Regions from separate parts of the Homo sapiens genome. Here region 2 is linked to region 1. Evidence: fine-mapped expression QTL. A gene starts in region 1. The other region holds a variant in brackets. All regions are shown on one strand. Distances are from middle to middle.

Region 1 (2,912 bases):
GCAGAGCCCACAGCCACGCCAGCTGCAGTGGTTGCCATCTGGGCCATCAGACCTGGCTGCCGGGGCGCAGCAGCAGAAGAGCCAACTACAGATGGGGGTGCCGCTGCTGGTGGCTGAACGACTGGTACTGGCCTGGGTGCAGCTCTCATCTGAGGGGGCCTGGCTGGCCGGAGGGGCCATGCGGGAGGTGCGGCTTCGGCTTCCACGCGGCATCCTAGGTACGCGACGGCTCGGCCTCCGGACGTGTGACGACCGGCTAAATTTTGTATTTTAGTGGAGATGGGGTTTCACCATGTTGGCCAGGCTGGTCTCAAACTTCTGACCTCAGGTGATCCACCCACCTTGGCCTCCCAAAGTGCTGGGTTAACAGGCGTGAGCCACCGCACCTGGCCCGATCTACCCTTCTCTTACAGGATTCCTAGAGACTTAATATTTTGGTTTTGGTTTGTTTCTTTTTTGAGACAGGGTCTCCACTCCGTCGCCCAGGCTGGAGTGCAGTGGTCACTGTAGCCTGGATCTCCCAGGCTCACGGGATCCTCCCACCTGACGGCCTCCCGGCCTCCTGAGTAGCTGGGACTACAGGTACGCACCACCACACCCGCTACTTTTTAATTATTTTTTTTTTTTGAGACGGAGACTCGTTCTGTTGCCCAGGCTGGAGTGCAGTGGCACGATCTTGGCTCACTGCAAGCTCCGCCTCCCGGGTTCACGCCATTCTGCCTCAGCCTCCTGCGCAGCTGGGACTACAGGCACCCGCCACCACGCCCGGCTAATTTCTTGTATTTTTAGTAGAGAAGGGTTTTCACTGTGTTAGCCAGGATGGTCTCAATCTCCTGACCTCGTGATCCACCCGCCTCGGCCACCTAAAGTGCTGGGATTACAGGCGTGAGCCACCGCGCCCAGCCCTACTTTTTAAATTTTTTGTAGAGCGGGGTCTCACTATGTTGGCCATGCTGGTCTCGAATTCCTGGCCTCAAGCGATCCTCCCGCCTTGGCCTCCCAAAAGCTGGGATTACAGGTGTGAAACCCCGCGCCGGTCTGAACCTCAATGTTTGAACCACCAAATTTTACCTGTATTGACACAGGCCCCGTCTTGTTGTTTTTCTAAATCTCATGTCATTGTTTGCATATTGGTTACCCGTGGTTGGCTTTGGAGCTGAAGGTGGACAGAGCTAACATCAGGTTGCACACAGGAACACAGTGAGGTCGCGAAAAAGTAGCGCGAGCTGCCTCCATGGCCCAGGGCGACCTCACCGGCGTTTCCTGTCTGGGACTGCGCCCACGCGGTCACGTGGTGGCCCGGAGGACGCGCGGCGGCAGCGGCGCACGCGCACGGAGAGGAGGCTACTTGCCAGGTGAGCGAGCTGAGTGGGGCGCCGGGGCGGTAGGAGGGTGCTGTTCGCTGAGCTGGAGTCCGGGCTCCGGTCCCCGCCACGGACCTTGAGAGGGTACCCGGGGTCAGACCTGGCAGGTGGGAACCGGGAGTGGGGAGGACCCAGGGCAGGGGCGGGATGCGCAGATTCGTGGAAACTCTGCAGGTTGTGGACAAACTGCCCAAATCCTTTTCCCTGAATGCCAGTTTAATGGCCTCGTCTGATAAGAAAAAAATAAGAAATAGATTTCAGAGACCCTATTTCTCTCTCTGCCTCTCCACCTGCTTTACTTTTTTTCTCTTCTGTTAATTTTGAGCCTTATAAAACTATAGCGCCAGTATCCTGGTTTGGATCCTGAAACAGAAAAAGACATTAGTGGAAAAAATAATAAAGGCTGTGGTTTAGTTAATAGCACGTACCCATGTTAATTTCTTAATTTCGACAAATTGTACACAAATGTTGACATTAGAGGAATTTGGGTAAAAGGTACACAGGAATTCTTAGTACTATCTTTGCAATTTACTGTACATCTAAAATTATTCTAAAATGAAAAGTTAAGAAACAAAATCCTAAAGCAAAGTGCAGCAGGCCATTGTTCACCAGGGAGGGCTCAAGTTAGTTCCTCTTTGTCATGGAGTTAGGCATGTTTGACCAACTTGTTTGCTAAGGCAGAGTTGTCAGGCTACTGAATGTAGATTCTTCTGTCCAAAGGTTTCCGGGCAGGAATCGGTTTTCTCTTTCGATTCTGTCAAATATCTTTGGAACACATGTTGTGCATAAGCAAACGAGACACACAAAGTCTCTGCATAAGGGAATATACAGTCAGTCTAGGTCAGGTAGGAAGTAAGCACTATTAAAAAGATTCAGTAAAACCTCCCAGAACTGGGAAGACTCAGATGTGGAAGAAATCACATCTGGTCCAAGGGAGTCAGGAAGGCTACTGGAGGGAGTGCTGTCCTGAACTGAGGGGGCTCTGAGAAGAAACAGCATTCCTGGGGTGAAGAATGGCACCAATAGAGGCTTGCAGGTGACCAAGCTGAGCTGAGGGAGGAGCCCTGGGAGCAAGTGCAGTTCCTCTTACGTGGAAGCGCAGAGTACATCCAGGGAGTACTGCCAGATGAAACTGGAGGTGAAAACTGTAGCTTTGTTGTAGAAAACAGGGTGACACTTCAGTTGGATACATTATTTTTATTTTTATTTTTTTGAAACGGAGTTTCGGCTGGGCGCAGTGGCTCACGCCTGTAATTCCAGCACTTTGGGAGACCGGTGAGCAGATCTCCTGAGGTCTGGAGGTCTAGACCAGCCTGGCCAACATGGTGAAACCCCGTCTCTACAAAAATACAAATATTAGCCGGGCATGGTGGTGGGCGCCTGTAATCTCCGCTACTGGGGAGGCTGAGGCAGGAGAATCGCTTGAACCCAGGAGGTCTAGGTTGCAGTGAGCCGAGATCGCACCATTGCACTCCAGCGTGGGTGACAGACAATAGTGCTGTCTCAGCTCACTGGAACCTCCACCTCCCAAGTTCAAGCGATTCTCCT
Region 2 (2,912 bases), 47 kb after region 1:
CTCAGGACTTTGGGAGGCTGAGGTGGGTGGATCACTTGAGGTCGGGAATTTGAGACCAGCCTGACCAACATGGAGAAACCCTGTCTCTACTAAAAATACAAAATTGGCTGGGTGTGGTGGCACAAGCCTGTAATCCCAGCTACTCGGGAGGCTGAGGCAGGAGAAATGTTTGAACCCGGGAGGCAGAGGTTGTGGTGAGCCAAGATTGCGCTGTTGCACTCCAGCCTGGGCGACAAAAGCGAGACTCCATCTCAAAAAAAAAAAAAAAAATTGATTAATCTCGCACAGCTTTTATAAATCTATACAAGTTTGAGTAGTTCTTTCTCAGTTTCTCAGTGACAAGACTTTAATTCATTTTATTAGTATATTTCAGTAATCTTAAGAGGTACAGGGTGATACAGATTATTTTATGTTTAGTAACACTTAATATCAACTTTCTTTTTGATATGGCAGTTTAGACAAGTTTCCGGAAGTAGTTTATAGGCATACTTCTTTCTTTCTTTGTATTTTTGCTTTTGGGTTTTTTTTTTTTTTTTTTTATCTTAAACTCCTGGGCTTAAGCAATCCTCCAGACTACCAGCTTGAGCCATCACACCAAGCTATTTCTTTTTTTAGACTGAAAATAGGGACACAGATTCATCTACTCATCAAAGTGTCAGTTTCTCTGACTTCTGTTTGCCACAGCTCCTCGTGGAAGGGGTCAGGGCCGCCCTCGTCACTGTGGTCTGTCAGGATTGGTGGGAAGGGGATCTCCCCTCATCTGCTCTCAGTTTCCCACTAAACCACTTTTGGAGAATATTCCAAAAACATTCTTGAAATTTTCCTTGTACAATCTGAGATTTTATAACTTCTGCAAATTACTTTCCTTCAATGGATGAAGAAGGACATCAATGATGTCAGCACGTGAAATATTAAATATTATGCTAATACCTGAGCAGGGCCTTTGACAATTGTGGTATTTTTTGTTGTTGTCGTGATGGTGGTAAAATATATCTAAAGTTGGCCGGGCGCGGTGGCTCACGCCTGTAATCCCAGCATTTTGGGAGGCCAAGAGGGGGCGAATCATGAGGTCAGGAGATCGAGACCATCCTGGCTAACACAGTGAAACCCCATCTCTACTAAAAATACAAAAAAATTAGCCGGACGTGGTGGCGGGCGCCTGTAGTCCCAGCTACTCGGGAGGCTGAGGCAGGAGAATGGCGCGAACCCGGGAGGCGGAGCTTGCAGTGAGCCGAGATTGCGCCACTGCACTCCAGCCTGGG[T/C]GACAGAACAAGACTCCATCTAAAAAAAAAAAAAAATTATATATATATATATATATATATATATATATATATATATATATATAGTTTACCATTTGAACTGTTTTTAAGTGGTATTAAGTATATTCACATTGTAATGTAACCTTCATCACCATCCAGCTCCAGAACATTTTCATCTTTCTTTACAGAGACCCTGTCCCATGAAACAGTAACTCCTCACTTCCCCTTCTCCAGCCCGTGTGATTTATTATTTAATGGCACAGTTCCCTGAGAAGAAGGTAATGCTATTCTCATTTTAGAGATGAGGAAATCAAGCTGAGAAAAGTCACCCGAGGTCATACAGTTAGTAAGTGGCTGAATGAGGATTCAAGTCCAGGTCTTTGCTGTTCGGAAGCAGAGTTTGCATGGCTCAGAGGCCCCCTGTGGCCTGCAGACATGTTTTGTTAGGTTGGCTTAGTGTAGTCAAACAATAAGACTAGTGGCTGACATTTAGAATTGGAAGATGTCATGACAGATCTGCATTTCTGGCTGCTCTTGAAGACTGTGATGATCCAGTGACATGGACTGTGTTCTTGTGTGGCCTGTGTGTCAGCTGGCACAGAGGGGTGGCTGTGCCGCATGGCAGGGCGGCACTCTTGCTGCCTCTCACCTGCATTGCTCCTGGCTCTGAAGGCTGTGCTCTGCTCACTACATTCCACTGTGTGCTCCTGGACTCACTTGTCCTAGAGATCAAGTTACCTCTTTTGCTGGAAGTATATCAGTGAGGATATTTTAATGTCTCAGCTGGATTCTCATGTTCAATTTTAGGATTTCCATCACCAAGGAGTAAGAAGACCTTCGGGCAGAGACTGTTGGGTATGCTCCCTTCAGAAAACAGTTCTAAGAGGATGGAAGACCAGGACAGTCCTCAAGAGGTCCTTAAGATGCTCATAGATTTGGTTAGTGTCTTTGCTTTTTTTTGCAGGTTATGGTTAAGCCAAGCTTGTCCAACCCACGGTCCGTGGGGAGCATGCAGCCCAGAACAGCTTTGAATGTGGCCCAACACAAATTCGTAAACTTTCTTAAAACATTATGAGATCTTTTTGATATATATATATATTTTTTTAGTTCATCAGCTATCATTAGTGTTAGTGTATTTTTTTGTTTTGTTTGTTTTTTGGTTTTTTTGTTTGTTTGGTTTTTGAGACAGAGTCTCTGTCACCCAGGCTGGAGTGCAGCGGCGCGATCTCGGCTCACTGCAACCTCCACCTCCCGGGTTCAAGCAATTCTCCTGCCTCAGCCTCTAGAGTAGCTGGGACTGCAGGCGCCCACCACCACGCCTGGCTAATTTTGTGTGTGCGTTTTTAGTAGAGACAGGATTTCACCATGTTGGCCAGGCTGGTCTCAAACTCCTGACCTCAAGTGATCTGCCCACCTCGGCATCCCAAAGTGCTGGGATTACAGGCGTGACCCACCATGCCCAGCCAGTGTTAGTGTATTTTATGTGTGGCCCAAGACAATTCTTCTTCTTCCAGTGTGGCCCAGGGAAGCCAAAAGATTGGACACCCCTAGGTTAAGCTAATCTATTTGCTTCCTGTTAATTCAACTCTTTATCTCTCTAGACTTGCACTTGCCTTCTATGTCCTTTTCCCAGTTGGAGTACCAGACTCTACC

Which allele goes with the higher level. Alleles are on the strand shown, and positions count from the first base shown. SD is a standard deviation of normalised expression in the study named.
For the expression in skeletal muscle of the gene that starts at base 1,319 in region 1, T is the high allele of the variant in region 2 and C is the other (large effect, 1.1 SD a copy in FUSION).

What was found. PIP is the estimated chance that this variant, and not a neighbour inherited with it, causes the effect.
Region 2: its variant is fine-mapped to the expression of CCDC125 in skeletal muscle (FUSION, PIP 0.95).

Annotation. Positions count from the first base shown.
Region 1 is chr5:69,331,208-69,334,119 of GRCh38, reverse strand. It overlaps CCDC125 (coiled-coil domain containing 125), which reads left to right and starts at 1,319. Exons shown (of 12, transcript NM_176816.5): 1 at 1,319-1,471. It also overlaps the pseudogene CHCHD2P2.
Region 2 is chr5:69,284,622-69,287,533 of GRCh38, reverse strand. It overlaps CCDC125 (coiled-coil domain containing 125), which reads left to right. Exons shown (of 12, transcript NM_176816.5): 11 at 2,067-2,197. Among named protein-coding and RNA genes, the nearest start is that of CCDC125, 47 kb to the left of the region's middle. The variant T/C (reference allele first, on the strand shown) is at 1,263.